Linked DNA regions of Homo sapiens: all the other regions are linked to region 1. The links come from fine-mapping of genetic effects on gene expression. A gene starts in region 1. Each other region holds a variant in brackets. All regions are shown on one strand. Distances are from middle to middle.

Region 1 (5,346 bases):
GAATGAATGACTCAATGAGTTAATTTATGTGAAGTGCTACAGAGCTATACACAATCATCACAACCTTCAATAAGACTCTAACACCAAAAAGGACTAACTGCTGGCATTAAAAAAATCTTTTAATGCATCCTACTCATCTAATATTCACACGGCTTTGGTAATGGTAACTAAAGTACTGATTATATTTTTCATGCTATACATGAAGAAACAAGGCCTCTTGGGTTAAAGGACTTTCCCTGAGTGACAACATCTAGTGGCGGAGCCAAGGGAAGAATCTGGTTTCCTTATTCCAAATGGCTCCTAACTTTCCAACACACAAAAATATGTGGAGTGGCGAAAATTTTATTTAAGCTGTTGTTTTTTGAGAGTGAGAATTTAAAAAACAGAAAATTTAACAAAGAAGAAAAAAGAACAAGATTAATCTTCACAATGTATCTTTATTATTTTGTCTGAAGGTCTAAGAAATTCCCTCATATTTAAATAATTAAGACTAATTCCTGATGAATCTCATAGACATAATATTGCTGAATTTTTAAAAAGCCAGACACAAAAAAGTACAACAAAATTGATTTATATAAAGTTCAAGAACAAGCAGAACTAATCCATGAGAGGTAAAAATAAAGTTACCTTACTGGAAGTTACTGACTCGGAGATGGCACAAAGAAGCTTGCTGGGGTACTGAAAATTTATATATTTTGATCTGTATGATGGTTTAGACAAGTGTATACATATGTAAAAATTCCTCAAATGGTATACCTAGATTTGTGTTTTATTCTTATACTTTAAGAGGAAAAAAATCCTAATATTTCAAATTTTAGGTATCCATTACTTCATCTCAGAGGATTATTGAAAAACATATAAACATTTATTATTTTTAAGCTCCTAAAATGCGATAGAATAACTGTTTCTTCTTGTGTATAATTTTTAAATTTTTTAAACTTTTTATTTGGAAATTTCAGGCTTAGAATTCCCATTTGCCCTTTCCCCAGCTTCTCCAAATGTCAACGTCTTGTACATAACCATGGTACAATGATCAAAATCTGAATATTAACACTGACACAATATTTTTTACTAATCTACAGGCAGTATTCAATTTTTGTCAATTATCACACTAATGTCTATTTTCTGGACCAGAAGCCAATCCAAGGATATAACACATTGCATTTGTTGCTGTGTAACTGTGTGTCATCTAAAAAGCAGACGCTAAGATGGGAGTAAACCTGCAAATATTTTATTAGGAGAAATGCGTGTGTGAGGGAAAATGGGAGGGAGCTGATAAAAGTTACAAGCGCCTCAGACTTCAGTGTAAGTCTAACACTGAATGGAGGGAAGTAACAATGGGTAGACCCCTCTTAGACAGCCATGCAGTATAAGAAATGTTCAGCAAGAACCCGTGGGGAGATTCTCAGGAACAGGCCTGCCACTGTCAGTGGCTAGGAGCAGCCCATGGGAAGCATGGCCTCAGTGCAAATGGAGATTTCAGAATGCAGGAGATTAAGATATGTGAGTTACATTCTCATGTCAAAGTTGTCATGTCCCCCTTAATCTGGGACAGTTTCTCAGTCTGTCTTTTCAAGACCCTGTCATTTTTGAAAATACTGGCCAAGTACTTTGTTGAATGTCCCTCCATTTAGATTTGTCTAATCTTATGTGATTAAACTGAGGTTATGTATTTTTGGCAAGAACACCACAGAATTGATTAGGCACCTTTTCAGTGCATTGTTATCAAGAGGTAAATGATGCTGAATTTTGGTCACTTGGTTAAGATGATGTCCACCAGGTTTCTCCTCTGTAGTTACTACTTTTCCTTTATAAATATCTCATGAAGACAGAGTAGAGGCTACAGAAATATGCTTTTCATCATACTTTTGCCCATTGACGTTAGTATCCATTGATGACTGTTGTCTGAAACAACTACTGTGGTGTTTACCAAATAGTATTTTCTATTTCCATTATTCCTTCTACAATTATCAATCGGAATCCTGCTGTAAGGAAGTTTTCCCTGCTGCCCCATTTACTTGTTTATTAATTATTTATTCTTAGTAATATGGATTTTTAAATTCTACATTTTATTACTATCCAATATTGAAGATTATACTACTTATCTTGCAAGATTTCGTCCTGAGGATTAAATGGCTCCTGGTACATAGTAATCACAAAATTAACACTAAACTTGGAAGATCTGGGTTCAAGACCCAACACTGCCACTTATTAGCAGGAAGATACTGGCCAAGTCACTGAAGTCACTTTGGTTTCGTTTTCTTAAACTGTATAAAGGGAATAATAATATCTACCCCAAAAGGTTTGTTCTGACGTCTATGTGACTTAGCGTGAAGTCTTCAAATACACTCTAAGTATTAAGGACTCAAAAGTTCACCATTGTTTTAAAAGTTGAGTTTGTGACAGGATTGAATAACTGTGAGATTAAGGTGGCAGACACCAAAAGAGAGCGTGCTCTTTGCATGAAACGATCCAGGCAAGGCTCTTTTAACAGCTACCAGGTGGCAGGCCATGTCCGCGGGTGATCTGGGGGAAGCGCCCCTCCCCCGACACGGAAGCTCCGCGACAGGGGAGGCTGCGTGGGAAGCTCGCGCGACCCGACCCCAGGAGAGCGCGCAAAGCCTCTCGCACTGAGTTACCGGGTCTGGTCCGGACACTCCTTACAGCCGCCAGCCCGACCGCGGGCAGGGCCCACGGCCTGCGGAGCCTGAGAAACGCGAGCCGTACCTGCGTTCGCAACAAGGCGCCTTCCTGGGATCCCATTCCTCCGGAATACAATCCCAGCTCTTGGGCCTCGGGGAGTCATGCTCCTACGGGGCGACTGGGAAGCCAGTGCATCCCTGACTCACCTGAGAACCCGGGGCCTGGACACAGTAACCGCAGCTCAGAGCAAGCCAGCCTGGTAAGCTCCTGCCCATCAGCTGCCCAGCAGCCGTTTCTGCGCCTGCGGGAGAGCCATCGCCGAGCCGCCGTCACTTCCGTCATTCAAACCGCCCGCCAATGGCCGGACCAAACCGCGGGAATAGGCCCTGTCCCGCCTTCCTCGGGGGCCGCCGGGAAGGCTGCGCGGTGTTAAAAACCCCGCGCCCCGCGCACGCGCACAGGCACGCGCCAGCCCCAGCCTGCCTAGGGGCCCATTATTTGTCACACCTGTCAGGCTTTGACGTTTTCCCGTATGGGCCGCGCTCGGTGGCTCGCGCCTGTAATCCCAGCACTTTGGGAGGCCAAGGCGGGAGGATCACTTGAGCCCAAGAGTTCGAGGTTATGTATTTTTGGTTATGAGTTCAAGACCAAGTCCTTTTAAAAACATGGTGAAACCTCATCTTTACAAAAAATACGACAACAGCAAAAATTAGCCGTGCGTGGTGGTGGGCGCCTGTAATCCCAGCTACTCGGGAGGCTGAGGCAGGAGAATCGCTTGAACCCAGGAGGTGGAGGTTGCAGTGAGCCGAGATCCCGCCAGTACTGCACTCCAGCCTGGGCGACAGAGCCAAAGCCTGTCTAAAAAAAAAAAAAAAAAGTGCAGAGCCATGAGGGTGACTTTTGTTTTAAGGCCCCATCATGAAGATATCTTGGGATATGCATCCTTTTCTGTACTGACTACGGAATTCATTGGTACTATTATGCGCAGTTAACGTCTTATAGCTTTCATTTAAGGCCTCCAGCTCATAACAACAATGAGCCGTATGTTACCCTGTGCCTCCAGAGGTACAGCGCACGGAGAGCACCTCACGGATTTATCTGCTGTAAATAACCAATAATCAGGCGGTGAGCACAGGTTAATACCTATTGAGTATCTGTTATGTGCCGAGTACATTATGTTACTCTGGATGGATTATGATGCCTATACTAGATTTTGCAGTCTGGGTCATGGGGGTTAAACATCAGGAATCAAAGGATTAAAAATGGGGGGTGGGGATGGGAAGTTGCTGACACGATCAGATCTGGCTGCACAGTGGGGAAAAGGTCAGAGAGAGTGAAGACAGAAGGCCGTATACTACTACAGAAAGTGAAAGATAATAGCAATGAGAATGGAGAGAGGTGAGTAGATTGAATAGGAAGCCAAACATCAGGAATTGGTGGTTACCTGGTTATGGGAGGCACAAGAGGAGAAAACAAGGGTGATGCCCAAGTCCCAGATACCTAGCACCTGGGTAGATAGTGATAACATCCTCCTGGAACACACATGAAGAGAACCAGGAGGGAGAAGTAATAAGTTAAGCTTTGAATATTTTGAATTTGAGCTGTTTATGAGATATCTAGACAAAGGGATGCATTTCAGAAACTTAGGACACAAAATTAGCAGTACTTGACAAACAATTGCATGTGAGATTGAGAGAAAAGGGAAAGTGAAGTTGATTTCATAGGCCACTAGCTTGGGTAGCAGTGTTGATTCTTGATTGTAAAGGGAGAAATCAGAAATGGCAGTTAAGTGGGTAGGGTGATGAGCCAAGCTCTGTGTATATTGAACTTCATGTGCCTGTAGAACATCCAGTGATGTACTGTAAGCAGATGAATACATCGGTAGATAGCCCACAGAAAGAACTAGGCTAAGCATAAAGGGATTTCCTTGTTACATGAGTAATAACAAACGCTAGCGGAATGGATGAGATCACTTAGGGAGAATTTGCAGAGTGAGAAGAGCAATGAGCAAAGAACCAAACTCCGAGGAACACCAAAACTTAAAGGGATGGAGTAGGAGGAAGGAAGGTACAGGAAGAAATAGTGTGATTCCACCTCAGATTTACAGATCAGGATACTGAGTTACAGAGAGATTCAGCAACTTGGCCAAGGGCACATTTCAGTCAAGGGTGAACCAGGACTAGAATTCACGTTTCCTTCCCAAATATTAGGGTTCTTCTCAGCCTCTCTCCCCATTTCCTGTCACATTTATCTTGAAGAATATTTGTATTCATTTTAAACATTTTTTCAGCATCCTCCATACAGGCACGGAGATACTCTTCCATACCCGATAAAACATGTGCATATTATTTCATCCCTTGGGCTAGGTTTAGTGCCTGGACATGGGTTCCTGCACATGCTGCCCCATGGCACTTAGGAGTTCTTATTGAAATGAGCTGTTTAGAGGGCTCTCTATTGATTACACTCTAAGTTTCTTGAGAACCAGGAGTGCACTTTGTTCAGTTGCCTGGCATAAATGAACAAAGCTGAATAAATGACCAAATTACATGCTTCACTTCCTCAACCTGCATCCTTGGCAGAAATTCTACACTTGGAGATTTTGAATCGAGACTTGTTCTGTTTTTAATAGAAGGCAGTGAGGAATCAAAGCCCAAGTGGGCTTAGAGTCAGAGCATCTGGCTTAGCATTACCACAGATACTTTC
Region 2 (5,346 bases), 99 kb before region 1:
CTCCTGCCTTGGTCTCCCTAAGTACTAGGATTACAGGCGTGAGCCACTGAACTTGGCTATCAGTCTGGACATGTGAACCAAATTTTGAGTGTGGAATGCATCCTGTCTCAGTGCGGGATGGCCACAAAAAAATAGCATCCTCCTTTACAGTCCATCTACTCCTTTCTTTTCATAGCATTTAATACCACCTGACATATTATATATTTATTGTTTGTCTTCCCCACTAGACAGATCCCCAGCTTTAGTAAAGTGTTTGGTATAATCATCCGAGTGGCTACTTTGCTAGCAGTTAAAGGCACTAGTGCTACAGTCGTGAACAAGGCCCTTGCCCACATGAAGTGTACACTCCAGAGAGAAGGGTAGGTGTTCAATACATATTTGTTAAATGATAGACTATTAATATTATTTTGTCTGGAGGTAAGATATTACAAACATATCATAAATTAAATTTTTTATTCATTTTTTTGCATCAAAATAGTGCTTAAAATTGGAATTTATACTCACAAGACATAGCTAACATCCAAAGTAGACAATTAAAAAATATTATTTGAAAATTATGTACTTAGTACTGAAGACTTCCTAAATTTGCACATTAGCTAGATTGCCATTAGCACCATTAGAGAGTTGATCTTTGGCTAATGATTATTCAGGAAAATTTCAACCATTACAATCAGTGAGTATAATTTTATATTTCAGCAACGATAGTGGTCATGTTCAGCAACAGCTTCACTTACAAATTAAAGTAAGCTCACTTCAGTGTTGCACTCTGATGCTGTTTTTTTACCCCTTCTCTTGCAAATAACCAGTGAAATAAAAATTGCTTCTAACTGGCAATCGAAACAAGGGAGGAATTATGGCTAGCCAACTAGTTGCTAATGTTTGTGTTTTTTTTATTTAAGAAACATTTTAAATAATAGAGATGGGGTCTCACCATGGTGCCCAGGCTGGTTTAAACTCCTAGGCTCAGGCAATCCTCCCACTCGGCCTCCCAACATGCTGGGATCACAGGCTTCAGCCACCATGCCCGGACTGCTAATGTTTGTGAAAGGCAAATTGTAAACTTCTATGGTTTAACTTCACCAGAAGGGTAAAGGGCTCCCCACCTGCCACCTTGTTCTATAAAAAAAGTATACTCTGATTACTAGAATGGATTTTTAAAATTCAATTCAAAGATTCAATAACTATCAACATTTCTAAACACTGATTTTTCTTTTTCTCTTTTTCAAATGTTTTTTAATATCCTGCAGGTAATAACACTGATTTTTCTAATACTCAGAAACATCTACTTAGCAGTTGTGATACTAATTTGCAAAATGTAATAATGTTATACAAATATAAGATACTACTAAATACATAGTAGAAATAATTGCATGATTCCTGATATTTATATTCAAGGTATAAACATGACTGATTTCGCTGATACTACAGAATAAAAAAAATAAAGCTGCTATGTAAAAAATTAAAGAATATCTCAATTAGATATTTTTGTTCCCAATCTCTTTCAGACAGATCTATGAAATAATATAGAATATACTATCAATATGTTCTTTCATATGAAGTGAAAAAAATGGGATTTAAGTAGTGAGATAATTTCTATTTTTTACTTTTTTAAAAAAATAGACAGGGTCTTGCTATGTTGCCCAAGCTGGTCTCAAACTCCTGGGCTCCAGTGTGCTTCCTGCCTCAGCCTCCCAAAGTGCTGGGATTATAGGCATGAGCCATTGTGCCTGGCCTGTGGGATCATTTCTATTGGTTTTATATCAGTATTAATTAATAAGTCAATCAATTAATTAACCTTAATTATTTCTTTTTCTAAATAAGTATCAGCTGATTTAATCTCGCCCAATTGAATGCGTCTCTTTTGGTTGATCAATGCGATAGAGAAACTCTGCAGGTAAGAAGTATCCAAGATATTCCACTATATCTGGAGTAGTGTCATAATGGTAGTGTCCACCTTCTCCATGACGACTAAAAAAATGAGTGTGCTCCAGTCGCAAATCAAACCCCTAAGATAACAGACAAACAATATGTTAGTACTCAAATTATTGATTAGAGTTTAAGGGGGAGGGATAACTTTTTACGTTGCAATAGTTTTTATTTTTTAAATAGGTAATACATTCACATGTTCTAAATTCAAAGGGGGCAAAACGATGTATTCAGTAAAATGTATCTTCTTCTCTCTTGCCCTCACCACTCACTCCCCTTCCTAGCAGGTAACCAGTGTAAGCATTTTCTTGTATATCCTTCCATAAATACTTACTTTTATTTTTACTCAAATGTAGTATTTTGTACACACTTTTCTGCATGTAACTTTTTTTCATGTAACAATATAGTTTTGAGATCTTTGTATATGAAATCATAAAAGAGCTTCCTCATTCTTTTATACCTGCATGGTATTCTATTGCGTATGTAACTTCTCAACTGACACTTGCATTATTTCTAATTCTTTTGCTACTACAACAATACTGTAATAATAACCTTTTAACTAGTAATTTTACACAATTATGCATATATTTAAGTATAATATCCTAGGCATGTAATCACTGGATCAAGATATGACCAGGGTAGGCGGAGTAGCTCATGCCTGTAATCCCACCACTTTGGGAGGCTGAGGCGGGCGGATCACTTGAGGTCAGGAGCTCGAGACCAGCCTGGTCAACATGGCGAAACCCTGTCTCTACTGAAAATACAAAAATTAGCCGGGTGTGGTGGTGAGTACCGGTAATCCCAGCTACTCAGGAGGGTGAGGCAGGAGAACCACATGAACCCAAGAGGCGGAGGTTGCAGTGAGCCGAGAT[T/C]GCATCACTGCACTCCAGCCTGGGCAACAGAGCGAGACTCTGTCACAAAAAATAAAAAAAAGAGAAGATATGACCAATATTTTAGTAGGTATTTGCTTTGAATTGGTCTGTAATATTTTTTCTAGCGTATAGTATTATAATATAATGAACACCAAACAAGATGACAGGAGACCTGAATCCTAGTTGTGACTCTACTAATTGTTTTTTTTGAGATGGGGATTATACTGTTACCCAGGCTGGTCTCAAACTTCTGGGTTCAAGTCAGCCTCCTCAGTAGCTAAGAATACTGGGGCATGTGACCATGCCCAACTACACCTGCTATTTAATAAAATAATTTTGGGTGTTATTTAAAATGCTTGTGCCTTCATTTTCTCAAAGGTAAAATCTGCTCTGCCTAACTCATAGGATGGTGAAGAGCTCCCTTATCTTCCAAAATAATTCTAGAGGCTACCCTCATTCTTAAATAACAACAACACATGGCCGGGCATGGTGGCTCATGCTTGTAATCCCAACACTTTGGGAGGCAGAGGTGGGTGGATCACCTGAGGTCAGTGGTTTGAGACCAGCCTGACCAACGTGGTGAAACCCCGTCTACTAAATATACAAAAATTAGCCAGGCATGGTGGCAGATGCCTATAATCCCAGCTACCCGGGAGGCTGAGGCAGGAGAATCGCTTGAACCCAGGAGGCGGAGGTTGCAGTAAGCTGAGATCCTGCCATTGCACTCTAGCCTGGGCAACAAGAGTGAAACTCTGTCTCAAAACAACAACAACAACAAACACAAAAGTGCCTAGTTCTTAAAGATTATCCTAAAAATCAAGCATTATCATTGTAGTATAATATAAAAAACAGACACAGACTTACTGGGTCTCTGGAGACAAAAACTGGTAGACAAACCAAAGGAGCTTTCATTTCATAAAAATGCAACCATTTATTCACTTCTTCATCAGAGTTCAAGGGGCAGGAAGAAAATTCTGCAGGCTACAACAAAAGATAATTACATAGGTAAACATACTGAATATTACTAAGAATTAAAAATTTTAAAAATATATTTTACTTATTTATTATTATTGTTTAATTATACTTGAAGTTCTGGGTTACATGTGTAGAACATGCAGTTTTGTTATATAGGTATACACGTACCCTGGTGGTTTGCTGCACCCATCAACCTGTCACCTACATTAGGTATTTCTCCTAATGCTATCCCTCCCCTAGTCCCCCACTCCCCGAAAGGCCCCGGTGTGTGATGTTCCCCTCCCTGTGTCCATGTGTTCCCATTGTTCAACAACCCACTTATGAGTGAGAACATGGGGTGTTTGGTTTTCTGATCTTGTGATAGTTTGCTGAGAATGATGGTTTCCAGCTTCATCCATGTCCCTGAAAAGGACATAAATTCATCCTTTTTTATGGCTGCATAGTATTCCATGGTGTATATGTACCACATTTTCTTAATCCAGTCATTTGAGTTGGTTCCAAGTCTTTGCTATTGTGAATAGTGCTGCAATAAACATATGTGTGCGTGTATCTTTATCACAGAATGATTTATAATCCTTTGGGTATATGCCCAGTAATGGGATTGCCGGGTCAAATGGTATTTCCAGTTCTAGATCCTTGAGGAATCACCACACTGACTTCCACAATGGTTGAACTAATTTACACTCCCACCAACAGTGTAAAAGCATTCCTATTTTTCCACAACCTCTCCAGCATCTGTTGTTTCCTGACAGGGTCTGGCTCTGTCACCCAGGCTGGAGTGCAGTGGGATGATCACAGTGGGCCTGGAAAAAGCACCACAAGTTTCCACTCTGGTGTGTGGGATTGGCAGCTGGGCCCCCAGCCTTCAGGCCTTCCCTGGCCCGAAAGTGGGGCCTCACCGGAAACCCGCCCCCTTCTGCCCCGGAACCTGTCTGCCTCCTGCTGCCGATCACGGAATCCAGGCTGTAGGTGCCAAGGGGTGCCTGAAGGCCAGTGGGGAGCTGCTCTCAGCCGCCGCTCAGCTTCCCTTCTACGCTCGTGTCAGCGCCCCAAATCCAGAAGGGGCCGGGACGGCAGGGGGCTGGTGTGTCAGCAGTGCCCTGAGCGTGTGCACACCTGGCTGGGCTGCGACAGCGACCGGGCTCTGCCTGACTTTGCTCCTGGATCGGAGCAGGCGCCGACAGCAGGGAGAAGCCAGGCAGTGGGAGCAGGCATTTCCAAGCCTGTAAGAGCAGTGGGGGCCTTCCCAGACCCCCAAGAATGCAGGAATGCCTGGGTCCGCAGCCACGGTTTGGGCAGCTGCAGCTGTGTGGAGAAGGCAGGGCTCCTGCCTGCTCCGTGGAGCGGGAGACCCAGGTCTGCAGCCGCGGGTTTGAGCTGCTGCAGCTGCGCCTGGGCAGTTGGGGCTCTCGCCTGTTCCCACTGGGAGAGCACAGGGATGCCAGGGACTACAGCCATGGCTTGGGCGATTGCAGCGGCACCAACGGAGCTCCAGCGCCAACTCGGAAGGGGCAGGACTCCCACCTGTCTTCAGCTCCCACCCGCTCCATAGAGTGTGTAGCCTCAGCCGTGC
Region 3 (5,000 bases), 140 kb before region 1:
ACATCATCACTAATCTTTCTTTGTGGAAGTTTACAACGTTTAGATTGGGACCTGTAACCATAATCCCAGTTTTAGTCTTAGTTCTAAGTCTAAACAATTCAATGATGATAATTTTCTCTTTTCTTTTCCATTGCACTCAGTCTCTCTTTTTACTATGGAAAATTTTAAACACAAACAGTAGGAGGGCAAAAGGCTTACTGGCAAATAAATAATAAACACCAACAGAAGTATAATATAATGAAAGCCTATAATCCCATCACCCATTCTTAAGTTAAAAATGCAATCCAAACTTGTTTCATCTATGTTTAACACCTACTTTCTCCCAATCCACCCTCAAATCACCCCAATTATTTTATTCTTTCTTTAGATAAGGGGAAGAAAACTCTATGACTCTACTTTATTCCATCATCTTTCTCTGGAAGTTTCAGGACTAGTTTCCTGTCCATTGTGTATTCTTTCATACTCTGCATCTGCTCTCACACTTATCTACTATGTTTTCATTTTTTAAGTGAATTAAAACCTCTGCATTAAAAATAGTATTATATTGGAAATGACTGTACATAGGAAAAATCAAAAAGAAAGAAAACAATAGCATTATAAATGTATTTTTCTGCCCCTACTCCTAAGGGTCGTTATTTTGTGTTTCACAGTATGCTTTGCTTTACTGTGGCTAGTTACGTCTGCTGAAATAAAGCAACTAAGGGTATCGTAGTGCACACCTGTAGTCCCAGCTACACAGGAGGGTGAAGCAGGAGGACTGCTTGAGCCCAAGAGTTTGAGATCAGCCTGGACAACAGCATTGTGAGACGCCATCTCAAAAACACAAACTGAGACAAAAAGGAAATAAAGCAACTAACACTTTAAAAATAAAATGTAGTCACAGACCCTGACAAATGTCAGGTGTTAAATTTCAAAAAGGCTCAAAAGGTAGGCCAAAAAGTCCTTAAAGGCTACTGGCCAATTGCATTAACTTGTGATTTGTGAATGTAAATCAAGTAGACTGCATTCCTATGAAGCCTGGGGACAAAAACCATCTTACCTCCTTCACAGACACACAGTTATCAACCCAGTTTTTAGGGCATAATCATGAACTTGATTAGACCCAGGATCAACACCAGGTCATGAGAACTATAAAACTTGGGTTATTTTAGGCATAACATGGAGAGTATAGGCTAGAATACAAATGGCCCTATTCACTTCAAATATACTAGACCTGCCATAACCATTAGGCAAGAACTGAAGCAGACCTGGAATCTCAAAAGGTAAGGCAGCCTTCTGCTCAGTGCCGGGGTTCATTGTTTACCCCAGCTCAAATATGTGACATTTACTTAATAAAGACTAGTTTTTAGACATTGTTACCTCTCATTCTTACAATGTTTAAAAACAGACTTTATGAATTTTCTCCTAAGAACTAATTGCCATCAAAAAAACAAAAAAACAAGGGCCGGGAGTGGTGGCTCATGCCTGTAATCCCAGCACTTTGGGAGGCCAAGACAGCAGGATTGCTGGAGTCCAGGAGTTCAAGACCAGCATGGGCAACATAGACATGTTTCTTAAAAAAAATTTTTTTAATTAGCTGGGCATGGGGGCACATGCCTATAGTCCCAGCTACTCAGGAGGTTGAGGCAAAAGAATTCCTTGAACCCCGGAGCTCAAGGCTGTAGTCAGATATGATCATCACTGCACTCCAACCTGGGTAAAAGAGTGAGACTCCACCTATTAAAAAAAAAAACACTCTACAGCTTATATAATTTACAGAAATATTATGCCACCCTAGCAAATAAAAACCAAATGCTTAATATAATTACTCAGCAAACATCAATAGCAAATTAACATATTAAATACAAAACTTTTATTTTGGCCACTTACTTGCATATTTGTTCATAGCCTTGTGATGTGATTAAAACTTTCACACTAGATTCATAAACATCATTGATATTTGACCAATGAGCCTGTATCTGAGGATCCTCAATTCGGCTTGCTAAGCTGTCAATGGTTGCAGCAGCTCTTTTAAATACAAGAAGTTAAAAAACTTTTTAAGTCACCATACAAAATGATAGGAATATAAATGATTCGAAAATTTTATGAAAATTTTAAAACTAACTACTTTTTTAAACTACCACTA[T/C]GTGTAGGCAGACTTTAAATAAAGGCAGAGGTAGCTCTAAGAACCCTTTCATACTGCTTGAATGTGTAGGTTCTCAGCTTGACATTACAATACACTCTCATCACACACCCCTGATTATCATGATTCATGATGGGTTTATTCCCTTTAACTCTATTCATTTTCTTCCACTCAGAAAAGCTTATCAGGAAATGAGTGAGAAGGATATTCGATATTCTACGGTATAAACCTAATATAAATCATTCATAAATGTCAGTACTTGATCCCTGGTAACAAATGACTTGGGACACACCCACATCTAGACCCATTACTGTAATGAAATTATAATCATATTCAAGAGAAGCTAGAGATTTTTTGCACAATCAAATCCTTATACTCCAAAAAAAGAAAACTATCAATACCAATGAGAAATAAGATTTATCAAGTGTTCATTATACAGCATGCATTATAACAAGAGCTTTCATGAATTATATCATTTAATCTTACTAACATATCATTTAATCTTAACCTTATTAGGTAGGCACTATTATTTCCATTTTTTAAACAGAAAAAACTTTAGCAATGTTAAGCAATTTGCCCAAGGTCACATAGCTATAAACTGGGATACAAAACCTGGGAGTCTAAATCCAGAGCCAAAAACCTGGGAATCCAATTCCAAAGCCAGTAATCTTATACACACTAATCAACAGCCAACACTTAGAACCAAAGCATAAATCATTTAAATTAACCAAACCCTCAGTTTCTAATTATCTGATTTTTAGCACTTTACTGGAAAGAGAAAGAAAGGCCTGGAAGTGGCTCACACCTGTAATCAAAACACTTTGGGAGGACAAGGAGGGACGATCGCTTGATACCAGGAGTTCAAAACAAACCTGAGCAACATATCGACAACCAGTCTCTATAAATAAAAAAAAAATAAGCTGGGCACAGTGGCGTGCACGAGTAGTCCCTGCTACTCAAAAGACTAAGGCAGGAAGATCACTTGAACCCAGCAGTTCCAGGTTACAGTGAGCTATGACTCCACCACTGCACTGCACTCCAGTCTAAGCCAGAGTAAGATGCTGTCTCAAATTTTTTTTTTTTTTTTTTTTGAGACAAAGTCTCACTCTATCACCCAGGATGGAGTGCAGTGGTGCAATCTCAGCTCACTGCAACCTCCACCTTCCAGGTTCAAGTGATTCTCCTGCCTCAGCCTCCCGAGTAGCTGGGACTACAGGCGTGTGCCACCACGCCTGGCTAATTTTTCTATTTTTAGTAGAAACGAGGTTTCGCCATGTTGGCCAGGCTGGTGTAGAACTCCTGACCTCAAGTGATCTGCCCTCCTTGGCCTCTCAAAGTGCTAGGATTACAGGCATGAGCCACCATGCCACGCCTCACCTCAAAATTAAAAAAATAATAATAAAAATAAATTTAATTTTAAAAGACAATGGGAAGAAATGAGAAGAGCCAGTGGGGACAAGGGGCTTTTACATTAATAGACTTAGGGTTTGGTCTGCTGCTGCAGTACCGGCTTCTTACAATACATTCTGAAATTTATTTTCCTTTTTCCTTGATGTGTTTCCCTGACAGTGCTTCATAATTCCTATAGAAGGTAAGTATGTGTGTGAGCATTACGAGAACCATTAAACTGGAAATAAAATTATCTAGCAATGGAAAATTGGGAAAAGAAATCATGAAGTATTTACATTATAGGATATTATACAGCTATTAAAATAGATGAAAAAATTTACAATACAATATTAAATGAATGCAAGGTAAAAAATTTGTTTGTTTTGGTGTCACCCCTGAGGTATGAACTCAGAAGGATATAAAATTTTATAAACTCCGATTTTTCTTTAAAGACACACACACACACTCTGACACATACACATAAAAATATATTAGCATGTCAAGAGATCTCACTGTGCATGTTATCATACACATCAGTCTTTTTGTCTTTTTTAAGACATGGTTTCACTCTGTCATCCCAACTGGAGTGTAGCGGGGTGTGATCACAGCTCACTGCAGCCTCAACATCCCAGGCTCATGCAATCCTCCAGCCTCAGCCTCCCAAGTAGCTGGGACTACAGGTGCACACCACCACATCTGGCTAATTTTTTTTATTTTTTTGTAGAGATGGGCCATGTTGCCCAGGCAGGTCTCAAACTCCTGGACTTGAGGGATCTGCCCAGCCTCCCTGAGTGCTGAGTTTACAGGCATGAGCCACCACACCAAGCCCAGCTACTTTTTTTAAAAAGGCTTCCTGGCCAGGCACGGTGGCCCACGCCTGTAATCCCAGCACTTTGGGAGGCCAAGGTGGGTGGATCACTTGAGGTCAGGAGTTCGGGACCAGCCTGGCCAACATGGTGAAACCCCAACTCTACTAAAAATACAAAAATGAGCCAGGCATGGTGGCGCACACTTGTAATCCCAAATACTTGGGAGGCTGAGGCGGGATGATCGCTTGAACCCGAGAGGCAGAGCTTGCAGTGAGCTGCACCACTGCACTCCAGCCTGGGTGACACAGTGAGACTTCGTCTCAAAAAAAAAAAAAAAAAAAAATTTCTTGTAGAGACAAGGTCTCACTATGTTGCCCAGGCTGGTCTCAAACTCCTGGGCTCAAGCAAGCTTCCCATCTTGGCCTCCTAAAGTGTAGGGACTACAGGGGTGAGCCACCATGCCCAGACAGGGTCTTTTTTTCTTCACTAAGCTTTTTGTACACCAGGAAGAAGTAAAAGTTTTAAAGCTTTGCTGCTTCCAAGGCTACACTTACTACTCTGAAATTTATAATGGTTATAAAAATAGCTGTTTTTATGCTGATCATTTATTTGGGGAATATTTAAATTTATGGTCAATCAGAAATTTGCAAGACTAACGATCTACTCAAATTATCAGCTTT

Evidence for each region. PIP is the estimated chance that this variant, and not a neighbour inherited with it, causes the effect. A credible set is the group of variants that fine-mapping cannot tell apart.
Region 2: its variant is the best candidate, but not a certain one, in a credible set for the expression of CEP295 in lymphoblastoid cells (GTEx, PIP 0.74).
Region 3: its variant is the best candidate, but not a certain one, in a credible set for the expression of CEP295 in whole blood (TOPMed, PIP 0.54).

The regions. Positions count from the first base shown.
Region 1 is chr11:93,659,278-93,664,623 of GRCh38, reverse strand. CEP295 (centrosomal protein 295) reads right to left here and starts at 2,942. Exons shown (of 30, transcript NM_033395.2): 1 at 2,850-2,942. RefSeq lists an enhancer at 2,819-2,948 and a silencer at 3,109-3,178.
Region 2 is chr11:93,758,175-93,763,520 of GRCh38, reverse strand. It overlaps C11orf54 (chromosome 11 open reading frame 54), which reads right to left. Exons shown (of 9, transcript NM_001286069.2): 8 at 3,663-3,779; 9 at 1-2,006. The coding sequence ends at 1,833. Among named protein-coding and RNA genes, the nearest start is that of C11orf54, 19 kb to the right of the region's middle. The variant T/C (reference allele first, on the strand shown) is at 2,799.
Region 3 is chr11:93,798,842-93,803,841 of GRCh38, reverse strand. It overlaps MED17 (mediator complex subunit 17), which reads right to left. Exons shown (of 12, transcript NM_004268.5): 9 at 1,870-2,007. Among named protein-coding and RNA genes, the nearest start is that of MED17, 17 kb to the right of the region's middle. The variant T/C (reference allele first, on the strand shown) is at 2,126.